2 linked regions of the Homo sapiens genome follow. The protein of the gene in region 2 interacts with the protein of the main gene of each other region in a biochemical or structural test. Each region holds a gene or a part of one and is shown on either strand. Other genes may lie near its edges.

What was found. The genes of interacting proteins can lie anywhere in the genome.
Region 1: the proteins of DRD1 (region 2) and COPG2 form a complex in vitro, tested with the Homo sapiens proteins (one study listed by BioGRID).

What each region holds. Positions count from the first base shown.
Region 1 is NC_000007.14:130,658,749-130,665,748, forward strand, and holds part of COPG2 (coatomer subunit gamma-2), read right to left. Parts: intron 4,291-7,000; coding exon 4,219-4,290; intron 1-4,218. UniProt on the Homo sapiens protein: The coatomer is a cytosolic protein complex that binds to dilysine motifs and reversibly associates with Golgi non-clathrin-coated vesicles, which further mediate biosynthetic protein transport from the ER, via the Golgi up to the trans Golgi network.
Region 2 is NC_000005.10:175,441,183-175,448,411, forward strand, and holds the start of DRD1 (D(1A) dopamine receptor), read right to left. Parts: upstream 3,001-7,229; 5' UTR 2,517-3,000; intron 2,401-2,516; 5' UTR 1,918-2,400; coding exon 577-1,917; 3' UTR 1-576.

The DNA.
Region 1 (7,000 bases), on a different chromosome or scaffold from region 2:
CAGCTCACTGCAATCTCCCCCTCCTGGGTTCAAGTGATTCTCCCACCTCAGCCTCCCAAGTAGCTGGGATTACAGGTGCCTGCCAGCACACCCAGCTAATTTTTTGTATTTTTAGTAGAGACAGGGTTTCACTATGTTGACCAGGCTGGTCTAAAACTCCTGACCTCATGATCTGCCCACCTCAGCCTCCTAAAGTGCTGAGATTACAGGCGTGAGCCACCGGGCCCAGCCGACAACCTGATTTTTTTAAGTGGTAACAAATTTTAACAGACACTTCATCAAAGCAGATATACAGATGGCAAATAAGTACATGAAAATATGCTTAGGCCGGGCGCGGTAGCTTACGCCTGCAATCCCAGCACTTTGGGAGGCTGAGACGGGCGGATCACAAGGTCAGCAGATCGAGACCATCCTGGCTAACACAGTGAAACCCCGTCTCTACTAAAAATACAAAAAATTATCCAGGTGTGGTGGCGGGTGCCTGTAGTCCCAGCTACTCAGGAGGCTGAGGCAGGAGAATGGCGTGAACCTGGGAGGCAAAGGTTGCAGTGAGCCGAGATCATGCCATTGCACTCCAGCCTGGGCGACAGAGCAAGACTCCGTCTCAAAAAAAAAAAAAACGAACAAACAAGCATTATCTAGAAATTCCACTTGTAGGTATCTACTCCAGAAAAAGTCTCACTGTGTACATAAACATTATGTGCAGTATCATTTGTAATAGGTAAAATGTGGGAACAACTTATATCTACCAATGGGAGAATGGATAAATAGAATTACTGTATATTCACATATTGGAATTCCATATAGTAGTGAAAGTAAATAAAGTAGAAGTACATGTAACAAGCCAGTAAATCTTAAAAATGTATTAATTATAAACACTGCAGGCTGGGTGTGGTGGCTCAGGCCTATAATCCCAGTACTTTGGGAGGCCAAGGCGGGCAGATAAAGAGGTCAGGAAATTGAGACCATCCTGGCCAACATGATGAAACCCTGTCTCTACTAAAAATACAAAAATTAGACAGGCATGGTGGCACGTGCCCACAGTCCCAGCTACTCCAGAGGCTGAGGCAGGAGAATCGCTCAAACCCGGGAGGCGGAGGCTGCAGTGAGCCAAGATCGCGCCACTGCACTTCAGCCTGGGCGACAACTCAAAAACAACAACAACAACATTGCAAAAGAAGAAGATGTTATTTTTATATTTTAAGACACACAAAAATGCAAAGTATTGATTACAGATGTAAACTATGTAATCCTCATATATTAATATAAACAACGATAGAAGAATACCAACTTCAAGACAGTAATTACCTTCTGGTAAAGGAATGCTGGTAACGGAAGGAGCTCCACGTATTTCTGGCAAAATCTCTACCTCTCTTTGTCCCAAAACAATCACTCCCTCAATTCCGTATTTTTGCCTAAGGAATCATTAAAACTAATCACATCATGCTGTACATGGCTACTTACCTCAGTCACTACAAAAAGCCTAAAATACTCTGGTCATTATTCATAACCTGCAGACTTATTCCTTGCATCTGGGTACAGCACCTCGTCTGACTCCATTTTCCACCCTTCTAATCAGCGCCATTATATTCTCTGACACTTTCATCAGCAAAATCCCCTATATTCTCAAACTCTTCTCTGAATGTTCCCATCTTTTTCTTTAACTGAAACCTGGTTCTCTCCCAGGGATCCTCCTGCAACCCTCTGAAATAGCAGCTGTTTTCTCTCCCATAACCCTCATACCACCAGGCCTACAGGTGGGGAAGCTTATGCCTTTATACTATGTCACCTGCTACCATTGCTGGTTGTCCATTAAACCCCAGGTCACTTCCCTTATTTTTAAAAAATACCAGTACCTTGTTCACTGTCTCTCCAGTGCAATCCCAGTAATAAGTATTGGTGATTTTAATATCCATACAGATGGTATCTCTAAACCTCTGACCTCTTCATTCCTCGACCTCCTCTTCTCCAATGATGCCATCCTCCCTACAATGATCACCCACTGCCACAGCCTATCAGTAACAGCATCCCTTTCTAATTTCATTCCCAAGCACTCACACTCCTGACTCCAAACTTCTTTCACTCTCTCTTGACCTACAATCCACTGGTTCTACCAACTTTTTGCTGTCCCTGTCAGCCCGTTCTTGCTTCCCTCCTAACCGAAGATTCCACAGTCGATGTTCCAACCACTCAACTTTTTTGCTTCTCCCTCTGTTCACTAACCTGGCAAAACTTCAATCCTGATTAAATCCTATCTCTAAGCCTTCAGTGCTTTAACCTGCAGGCTGTAGCTGGAGAAAAACATTCACCATGTAGCTGGAGAAAAACATTGGTAATACTTTAAATTCATAAGCACTAACTTCAACAGGCTATTAGTCCTATCGAACAATCCTACATTTCCCTAATCCATTTCCTAGAAGACAATTTCATATCTTCTTTTCTTAATATAAACCTCTGTGCTACAGGCTTCAAAAGTTTGTCCTCATCCTTTTTCTTTCTTACTCTGCTTCCTTTTCTCCACTACATGTCCAGCTTTTCTTCCCAACTGCCAGCCCTCTGAGTAACAGCAGCCTTGGGAAGACACCTGGCTGCAAAAACAAAGCCACAAAAGAGGCAATAGCCTTCCATGACTTATGTAACAGCCTCCCTCTGAACCCTACTCCAGCAGCTCAACCTGCCTAGTTTTCTAGTCTAATTCCTCTAATAAACACCTAATTCCACAATACTCATAGTGGTTCTGTTTCCCTGTCTGAACCCTGAATTTCTGCTACAGGAAGTGGTTAAAAGAAGTCCTTAAAGATATGAACCTGAAGTTGCTTCTCTGATTTGATTGAAGGTATTAATGACCAGTTTCCAATGGTAAAGGGGCTACTAGTAGTCCACAGCATGCAGTGGCAAAATATTTAAAATCATCATCTGCAGACAAGGACCTACAGAAGACAAAGCCTTGGGTAACTAACTAGTGGATGCCATAGAAGATTTTAGTAAAAATAAGTTGTATAATGGGTTAATTAGTTGTTTCTAGGTACACTGGATAATTCTTTTCTCAGGAAAAGAAAATGATGAGCTCGGAGTTTTAAAAGCACTACTCAAATCTGGGTAAGGGGGCCAGAAATCTATAACTGCCTTCATAGAAAGCCTTATATCATGTGGCTACAGGGCTGAGACTTCTACAAAGTATATCCTGCAGGTGGCTCAGTTACAATGCAAATTGAATTCACACTCTTGCAGGACATCTTATGTTAAAGTTAGGACCTTGACTGGCAAGGAATGGGGCCCTGAAAAGTAGAATGAAGATATATGGACAGACTCTGATGAAGCCAAGTACCCCGAACTCCTAAATTCTGTGACATCTTCTGCTAGTAGAAGCATCAGTCCTTTATCCCATATGTGAGGAAATTAGTCTTCCTTTGCCTGTAGAGTATATAATGGCCTCCCCTGAAACAGCTGCCTTACAGGGGACTGCTGATCTTCCTGAAGATCTACTCCTAAAACCTCTCATTATTTAGATCCATAACAAGACTCAAATCTCAAGAGGTTCTGGGGGTTGACACAAAATGTGACATGTGATGATATGCAATACATACCAAAAAACTGCAGGATTTGGCCAATTTATGTTAATGGAAAGCTGGAAAATACATATCCCAGAATTACCTTCCCTGTATGGTTCTGCCTTAGAGCTAGGCAAAAGAAAAATGTACACAACACTTAGAAGACAGACAAAAAGCAGCAGCTGTATGTTCTGAAGGTCAGGGTGGCCTAAGGTAATGAGAGGCAGGTTTAGTTTGTACTCATTTTTCTTTTTCCTTATTCTATTCCTTATTCCCCTTCCCCACTCCACATCCAGCTCTTCTTCTCAACTGCCAGCACTGCTGACTAACAGCAATCCCAGGCCCACCAGAAACTTGACTAAGAACTGACAAATGTGGTAGCTATGTGCACTGACTTCTTTATCAGTCCACCTTCACAGTGTCATGCCAGAAGCTAGGTATTAACAGTCTTTATGACTTCACGGTAGATCTGCAGGGAAAAGTTTTACACTGCATACTTTAATTCTTCCATTTTCACGTCTTATAATGAATATTTATAAGTTTTATAAGCAGTTAAATAATTTAAAACATTTCAAGCAATGCTCCCTAATTTAGAACACTCTTAGTTCCCTGGGGAAAATAAATAAAAGGAGGTTTTTCATCGTAAAAAAAATTTAAAAAGACTTACATCATTAGATTGAAACAATCGCGTCATTGCAAAGAAGGCTTCTGTAGCTTCCGTTGTTCCAAAGTGTTCACCCTAAGTAAAATTTAAAACAATTTTTAAATTTTAAAAAGTGTATATTCATATATATGTACATATACACACACAGGATTTTCTATTTCTGCAAAAATCCTTTAGAACTCAAGAAAAAAGAATCTCTTTGTAAACATTCTGCCTCTGCAATTTTTCTGGCTTTCAATGCATAAACCCACATAGCCATTTATCCCCCCTTATTTAAAATAATTCAGTATCGCATACCATGCTTAAAAGTTCTGGCATAGTGATCTCTAAACTTTTAGTAGAAAGTATCTGAAATTTTCCTGAAGTATTGTAGTTTACAAGGAGGGAGAAAATTACAGCACTCACAATAGGACATTATTATTACACTGCCTAAGAGCAGAGATCATATCTATAATGCCCAGCACAATGCCTAACATGTCATGGGAGCATAATAAATATTAAAATATAAGGAACTATCTATTCAGAATCTCAGCAAAATGGCAAGAAGGGGACCAACCAAAAGGGCAGGAACCAGATTCATCATATTAAAAAACTAGGCTTAAGGGGCTGCTATGTAGCTCAATATTGGTTCAAGCCCCTAAAAACATGCTTTGGATCAGAGCTTCAAACAGTTTAATGAGCATGACAATTCATCCTGGGATCTTGCCAAAATGCAGATTCTGATTCAGTGGCTCTGGGGTAAAGCCTGAGATTTTGCATTTCTTTTCTTTTTTTTTTTTTTTTTTTTTTTTTTGAGACGGAGTCTCACCCTGTTGCTCAGGTTGGAGTGCAATGGCGCAATCTTGGCTCACTGCAACCTCCACCTCCTGGGTTCAAGTGATTCTCCTGCCTCAGCCTCCCAAGTAGCTGTGATTACAGGTGTGCACCACCACGCCCAACTAATTTTTTGTTATCTTTAGTAGAGACGGGGTTTCACCATGTTGGCCAGGCTGGTCTTGAACTCCTGACCTCGTGATCCACCTGCCTCGGCCTCCCAAAGTGCTGGGATTACAGGCTTGAGCCACTGCGCCTGGCCTGAGATTTGGCATTTCTAACAAGTGATGCAAATGCTGATCTGGGAACTACATTTTCTGAGCAGTGAAAAAGTGTTAGATAACGTATTTCAAAACATCTCAAATCATAGATTACCTCAAATATTACCATTTCAATATTTAATGTCTTCACTAAAAGCAATCTTATATAATACGTTACACTCAATCACTTTTCAGAGCTTCAGATTCCACATAAAATATAACTAGTCTTCAATCTATTTGCCATAGGTATAAGAATAAATTTTGGTGAAAAATACTGACAGTTTAGGATAAAAGACAAAGTACAATAAGTTTATACTTACTTAAATCAGTGTATCCAGCCTGCTCATCAGCATGAGATTTATCTTTCTTTCACAACTATTTACTGAATACCCAGAAGTCTGTGTGCTTTTTAGTTATACAGGAAAACCTTACATCCTACTTTTTTACTTGAAACTCAGAAAACACATGGATATGTCAACTCTCATAGAAATTCAAAAGTATCTTTCTATAAAGCTCTACCAAGTTCTAGGCAAAGAGATAAAATTTATGTTCCCAAACCTGTTTATATAGTTAATTGTGTTTATGCTGTGCTTGGTAATTTCCTTATCAAGATAATTAAATGTTTCAACATGAGTTGCCTCATTGAAGAGGTAATGACCAACATAAAAATACATGTTACTCTCAATCAACTTTGACTATTCAAAACTTTTGTTTATACAATGGATTTGGCCAACTTAGACACAATGTGTGCTATGAAAAGTTAAACCCAATTGACTATGCTTTAAATGTTTCTCATATGCTGACACAGAGGGATTATGTTGTTTGTGAACAGATATATTTTATTTAAAACTATGTGTTTGATGATCAGGCACAGTAGCTCACACCTGTAATCCCAGGACTTTGGGAAGCTGAGGTGGGCGGATCACCTAAGGTCAGGAGTTTGAGACCCACCTGGCCAATATGGTGAAACCCCGTCTCTACTAAAAATATAAAAATTAGCCAGGCGTGGTGGTGCATGCCTGTAATCCCAGCTACTCAGGAGGCTAAAGTAGGAGAATTGCTTGAACCAGGGAGGTGGAGGTTGTAGTGAGCCGAGATTGCGCCACTGCACTCCAGCCTGGTAACAGAGCGAGACTCCATCTCAAAAAATAAAAAAAATCTATGTGCTTGTTGCTTAGTCTTCATTTGTAAACAAGAAAACTTTATTAAATCTCTGAGTGAGGTCTTCAGTCACAAAACAAAGTAAAGATAATATATTCTCTTAGAATTCAAATTGGAAACCATGGTTATCTTAGCACCATATGTAAACCACCTGAGGTATATGGTATATATGTATGTTTTATGTGTCCGTCTGTATGTGTATAGACATATATAGTCAGCCCTCCATAACCATGAGTTCTGAATCTGTGGATTCAACCAGGCTCAGATTGAAAATATTCAAGGAAAAAAAAAACTATGTTTGTACTGAACACGTACAGATGGTTTTTTGTCATTATTCCCTAAACAATACAGCACAACAACTATTTACACAGCACTAACATTGCACCAGGTATTGTAATCTAGAGATTATAGTCTAAGTATTATAATCACAGAGACAACTTATATATGGGAGGATATGTGTAGGTTATATGCAAATACTACACCATTTGTATGAGGGACTTGAGCATCTATGGACTTTAGTATCCAATGGAGGTCCTGGAACCAATTCCCCA
Region 2 (7,229 bases):
TATTTATTATATCATAAATTAAAAATATCCATATATACAATAAATAAATAGAACCAATATCAACAAAACATCTCTCAATTCTGGAAAAAAATTTCTCACTCCTACTGTAAGCCTCAATTAATGTTTTAGAAATAATTTATGAAGGCATGCACCTACCTTTACAATCTGAAAACTTTGCTGGGAACAGTGTTAGCACCTGTTTGTATACAGCAAACTCAACCCATCTCATTTTCTTCCCAGAAAAATTTGATTTTAAGTGAAGCTGTTCACTGTTGATTCTTTGCCCTATTTGGTAAATCCTAAGATAAGAATAAATTTCTAAAAACAATTCTGAAGCCAAAGACATGTCCCTTATGGCTCCCCATGTTTGTAGTGTCCCTGTTTGATTGACTATGAACAACACAGAAAATACACTGGAATGTATTTGGAAACGGAGTTAATTGTGTGTTGGAAAGCAGCAGAGGGCTCTCCTGACACCTCAGAGTCTCACCGTACCTTAGTTTCTTAATAGCAAGCCCCAGAGCAATCTCCTCTAGCTTTTGGGATGAGCATGTGTGGCAGGATTCATCTGCGAGTTCAGGTTGGGTGCTGACCGTTTTGTGTGATGGGTTGGATCTTCTCCAGAGAGACGTCAGTGTCATAGTCCAATATGACTGATAGGGCTGGGGACAGCTTCTCCAAGGGTCTGGCGATGCCAGCTGCCTCCTCCTTTTTCAGGTCCTCAGAGGAGCCCACAGCATGTGGGATCAGGTAAACCAGATTGCACTCCTTGGAGATGGAGCCTCGTGGCTCATGATGGCTGGAAAACATCGCGGCCCCATTGTTATTGATACTCACCGTCTCTATGGCATTATTCGTCGCAGGGCAAAGTCTGTAGCATCCTAAGAGGGTTGAAAATGCCTTCCGAAAATCAGCATTAAAGGCATAAATGATGGGGTTCAAGGATGAATTAGCCCACCCAAACCACACAAACACGTCAAAGGTGTTGGAATCAATGCAGAAGGGCTGCGTCTCCCCAGACCCACAGAAGGGCAAAATGCAGTTCAAGATGAAGAAAGGTAGCCAACAGCACACAAACACACCCATGATCACCGACAGAGTCTTCAGGACTTTAGTTTCTCTTTTGAAGGACATCTTAAAAGAACTTTCCGGTTGAGAACATTCGACAGGCTTTCCATTACCTGTGGTGGTCTGGCAATTCTTGGCGTGGACTGCTGCCCTCTCCAAGGCCGCAATGCGCCGTATTTGTTTCTGAGCAATCCTGTAGATCCTGGTGTAGGTGACAATCATGATGGCCACAGGGATGTAAAAGCTTATTACAGAGGATGAGATGGCATATGTCCTGCTGAGGCTGGAGTCACAGTTGTCTATGGTCTCAGCCAGGGAAGTGGCATTTCCATCAGAGGGGCTTGTGGGTTTTGCCTTGTGCCAGCTGAGCTGCACTGGGATGAAGGAGATGAGTACAGACAAGGTCCATGCCACACTGATCAGGATGAAGGCTGCCTTGGGGGTCATCTTTCTCTCATACCGGAAAGGGCTGGAGATAGCCCAATACCTGTCCACGCTGATCACACAGAGGTTGAGGATGGATGCAGTGGAGCACATGATGTCAAAGGCCACCCAGATGTTACAGAAGGACCCAAAGGGCCAGAAGCCAGCAATCTCAGCCACTGCCTTCCAGGGCATGACCAGGACGGCCACCAAGAGATCTGACACAGCCAAGGAGATGACAAAGAAGTTGGTCACCTTGGACCGCAGGTGTCGGAACCTGATAACGGCAGCACAGACCAGCGTGTTCCCCAGGAGCGTGGACAGGATGAGCAGCGACAGGAAACAGGCAGTGAGGATACGAACAGAGAAGTCCCTCTCCACCACCAGCCCAGTCCCGTCCATGGCAGAGGTGTTCAGAGTCCTCATCTTCCTAAGAGAAAGCACATCAGGGGCTCTGACACCCCTCAAGTTCCCAAGCAGGGAATAGGGGTCAGTCAGATTTCCAGGAGTCCTCCCCACCAGGCAGCACTTTGCACAGCCAGATTGCTTCCCTGGCAGAGGGCCTCACCAACATTCCATGAGAGGACCGCTTGAGTGGCAATCCAAGTCAATCCCGTGGATGGTCACTCTTGATTTCTACATCTGTCTTCTGACTCCCTTGCTGCAGGTCACTGTCTTGGGCACCAGAAAGCCCCTGAATTCCCCAAATAAAGCACTGGCTTTTTAGCATATTCTAAATCATCAATCCAGTGACTCCTGGGCCTCTGCTCTGCTAGTCAGTTGCAATCACATTTCGGGGCTGTTGCTTTTCTGGTGGTGACAGGAGATTCTCCCCTTCTGAGACTCAGCTGAAAATACATGTCTTCTCGCTCCTCCAAGCCCCTGGCTCCTCAGCAGCTCTCCAAACGCCTTAAAAAGCAAAAGGAAAACACACGGTCTTTCTCCAAGACTTAAGCAGATGGCATCATTACTCACGTCAAGCCCAACCTAATAATTCCCAGGGCGAGCCCGTCCGAGCCACCTACCTTGCCTTGGGGTCGTCTCTCTCAAAGCCCCTGGAGCTTGGAATGTGGACTTCGCTGGGGGCAGCGGCTCCGAAACGTTGAGGAAGCGCGCCTGAGCCCAGCCAGCTGCGCGCAGCAGGGGTTCGGCTCCCGGTGCGCAAAAATCGCCGGGGTGCGTTTGGGGAAAGGATCCCAGGCCAGGTCCCAAGAGAGGCGGCGGCAGCCCACTTCCTTGAAGAGCTGGAGATTGTTCAAAGGGCACTAGACCCCGGCTAAGGGCTCCTGGGCGCTCGGAGCTTCCTTGGGAGAGAGCACTCCCAGGACTGGTCACCTGGGCAGCTTCTTTTCTTGGCTTCCTTTCGAGAGCCCAGAGCCTTGGCGAACCTCGGGCGGCCTTCAGCCCTACAGAGCAGGGCCCCGCGCCTCCCCGCAGGCACTGCCCGCGACCTCTCAGGAGCCTGTGGCAATGCGAGGCAGCGAGCCGAGCTGGCACCAGCAAGCGCACAGGCCGGCGGGGTTCCCGCGGGGCACAGCCCACCCCGCCCGCGCGTCCCCTCCCCTGCCCTGGGGGCGGTCCTCGCTTGACAGGCAGAGTTGCGGGCGACAGCCGCACGTGGTCCCCCTGGATGGTTCTGCGGGCGAGGTGGGCGGAGGACGCCCCGGTGAGTGCTTGCCCTCCCTGGTTACCTCGCCAGTCTCCGGATCCCCGCGCAGCACGCGCAGGGCCCGCGAGGCAAATCCAATGTCAGAACCTCAAGTAAGCTTGAGTCCCCTGAAAGCAAAGCTCAGCCCCGACATCCAGCGCCTCTTGGGGTCAACCCCTAGCCGGACCCAAAGCCCTAAGCGAGCGGGAGCACCCCCCATTCCCCGCACACCAACTCCTAGAACGGCCGGCGGACGTCCGACCTGCGTTGTCTCCAAGTGTCCCCTAACTAGGGTTGGAGATGCCCGTGGGCGCCTGTACTCACCGCTCGCAGGGAGGGCGCGGCGCAGCTGGGATCCGGGCCAGCGCGCGCCGCTGCGCCCCGAGGGGACTCACTCCTTCCCCGCCCAGGTGGCGGGCGCGTCCCGGCTGCGGTCAACGCCGGACTCCAGCCGGTGCCCCGCACCTCCCGAGCGCCCCAACCCCAGCGCCGCGCGCTCCGTGTGCCCGGGGCGCCCTCTGCCGGCGGCTGCGACTTCCCGAGCGCCCGCTGTGCCCTCGCGGGCACCAACCTCACTCACAAGGGTTCCAGCGACCGCCAGGGACCCGCGCCCCGACTCGCTCTTCCCGGTCCATGACTGCCAGAACCTGAAAACAGGGAAGCGGAATCTTCTCCACTCAGGACTCCTCCGCTTGAAACACCCTGAAAAACGGACAAGGGTGAAAAATTTTACTTTGCTGGCATTGCATTCGTGAATCTATGTTTCCTCCTGCGCGCCCACTGCGTTCAAACCTGGGGCGCTAGAGCAGGCGAGACGCAAGCCTTACTCTCAAAGAGAACGGCAGAGCGGGCATTGACTCAGCAGCATCCGTGTTCCCCGGTGCACGCCTTACGTTGTTCCCCCGTTAAAAGAATCTTTCCCCGCCAGGCCGGCTCAACCCGCTTCGCCCAGGTGGAAATGCGGCTCGGAAAGGTAGTGGGGCCTGCTCAAAGTCACACAGCTCACGCGGGAGCCGCGCCGCTGCCCACCTGTTCTTTTAACTCACCGCATGTGGTACAGGAGCCCACAAACTGGAAAATTACCTACAGGGCTAAAATACAGGGAAGAGTCATATGGAGGCAGCGGGGCCTGGTGGAGAAGGAGCCCCCAGCCTCCCCTGGTTGCCCCAGGCAAGCTCACAGGTGAGACTTTGCACTAATTGTGCATAAATTGCGACACTGTGGTGCCTTCCTGTGCCTTCCGAAAGGTGGGAGGAGAATAAGCATGGATCCCCCAAGTCACACTGCCTGACTTCCTGGTCCTGCCCTGCCACTGTCGGCTGCATGTGCACTCTCTCCTCTCTGAGCTCGGGTTCTTCCTCTGTGAAACGGTGAGGACATAACAGGATTGTCATAACTATTAACTGAGACGGTGTTTCCAGAGGGCTTGGCACCAAACCTAGGACCCCGTCAGCCCTCCATAGGCAGGAACCCCTGGGACCCATTAACAAACCAACAGTCCAGGCCAAGCGCGGTGGCTCACGCCTGTAATCCCAGCACTTTGGGAGGCCGAGGAGGGCGGATCATGAGGTCAGGAGATCGAGACCATCCTGGCTAAAACGGCAAAAATACAAAACAAAATTAGCCGGGCGTGGTGGCAGGCACCTGTAGTCCCAGCTACTCGGGAGGCTGAGGCAGGAGAATGGCGTGAACCCGGTAGACGGAGCTTGCAGTGAGCCGAGATCGCGCCACTGCACCCCAGCCTGGGCGACAGAGCGAGACCCCGTCTCAAAAAAAAAAAAAAAAAAAAACTAACAGTCCAATCTCCACAACAGCCATGCACCATATCAGAAGCAAGAATTTTCTCTGGGAAAAAAAAAAAAAACCCTAAACCAAAGTAATAATTCCATTTAGTTCGCCAGCACAAACTGTACTTTGGTTGTTTGTTTATTTAGAGACAGAGTCTTGCTCTGTCGCCCAGGCTGGAGTGTAATGGTGCTATCTTAGCTCACTGCAACCTCCGTCTCCAGGGTTCAAGCGCTTCTCCTGCCTCAGCCGCCCAAGTAGCTGGGATTACAGATGTCTGCCACCACATCCGGCTAATTTTTTGTATTTTTAGTAGAGATGGGGTTTCACCATGTTGGCCAGCCTGGTCTTGAACTCCTGACCTCAGGTGATCCACCGGCCTTGGCCTCCCCAAGTGCTGGGATTACAAGCGTGAGCCATCGCGCCCGGCCTTTGGCACCTTGGCTTAAGATGAAAGGACCATATTGCTGGCACAGACCCTCCGGTGCCTGTGCTTACAGCTGTCTCCTCCCACCCATGGCCTCGCCGTCACACACAGCGTCCAACAGACTGGGGGTCAGAGACGCAATTGTTGCCACACACATTCCCCAAGAACTGCATTTCTGTAGAGCCCTAAGTCACGCTTAACGTAACACTTTCAGATCACTTTCCCCAAGGCCGTCATTCTCCAAACTTCTTGACTTTGTTTCATTTTCTTTCTTTCCCTTTTACTAATAAACACAAATTAAAGATATGTTTCTGGTTCGAGACTTGTCATGTAAGCCTGAGCATTTAACTCCTGACATTCTACCCTGGCATCTGCAATTTTCCACTGAAACTACCCAGAAATAAAATAGGTAGGAGAAATTCAGCATTAACCTTGGAAAGCAGGAACGGGTAGGATCCTGATCTGTGGGATAATGAGCCAGTGGAATTGGACTGGGCAAAGCAGGACTCCATAGGAATATTCCATATGGCAAGAAAATGTACTTCAGGAAGTAACCTCAAAAGAACACACTACCTGCCCTGCCACCCCAAAATCGAGATAGCAGACTCTGGAGGTAAGGATAAGGCCAATTTGAGGGATAAAATTTCTGTCTAATGACTGCCTTTCAGAAGTGCCCCCAATTCCCAAGTCTTCTCAGAGCCAACAACAATGCCACTGCTCTTGTAATTAAAAAACAAGGATGACAAACACAGCACAACACCTGGGCTTCAGGTGGTATCATGCTCAAGAAAACAGCAGTTTAACAGTGGGAAAATATTTGACACAACATTTAAATATTAATCAAAATTTTGTTCAAAGGAACATTCATAACATACTTCATATTCTCATTTCTCTCAAGCCCACCAGCTGCTCAAAAAACCTTTTTGTTTTGCTTGAAAAATCACCTAAATTATTTCAAACTAGCCCATACTGACCTTTATCTTTTTCTCTCAACCCATTTATCTGACAAGTCCAGGTGATCAAATCAACACATACCATTTTGGTAGTGATTGAGAGCTATTTCTTGACCACAAGTAAATTTCTGTCATTTCAATATTAAATCTCCTCCCTACCCATATGCTATGGTTTGAATGTCTCTGCCAAAACTCATGTTGAAATTTAATTGCCATTGTGACAGGATTAAGAGTTGGGACCTTTAAGAGGTGATTAGGCCAAAGGGTTCTGCCCTCCTGGGTGGACTAATGCCATTATCTCGTTATCTCTGGAGTGGGTTAGTTACTGCTGGAGAGAGCTCCTGATAAAAGGATAAGTTCAGCCTCCATTCCCTCCCTGCCTCTTGTGTAGTCTCTTCTTCTGCCAAGTTATGATGCCACCCCACGATCTGAGACTTCCCAGCCTCCAGGAACTATGAGCCAAATAAACTTACATTGTTTATAATTTACCCAGTTGGTGGTATTCTGTTACAGTAGCAGAAAACAGACTAGACATCATAACATACAAAAAAGGCTCAGAAACCCAGCCAGCAAAGCAAAAACGACTAACAGGTAGAGAAGGAGAGAACCTGAGAATAACCAAGGAGGTGATTTTGTTTAAGATCACCAGGAAAACCAGAGGGTTGGACCAGTTTGTCTATCATTCTATAACTCACTGCCTGAGATTCCTTCCTAACAGACATAGGTCACTGGCTTTTGAACGTCATTGCTGAGAGAACAGGAAAGAGTAAAATGGAGCTGAAATCTCAGTGTTTCACTTTGCACAGAGTGTGAATTTCAGAGGAACTTACAGTTTTGCTAGAGGTTTGGAGTTTTTCCTATTTTCTTATTTGAAGCTACGGTGAAACAAAGCCTTCTATTTTGTTCTATAAAAATCTCCCCCACA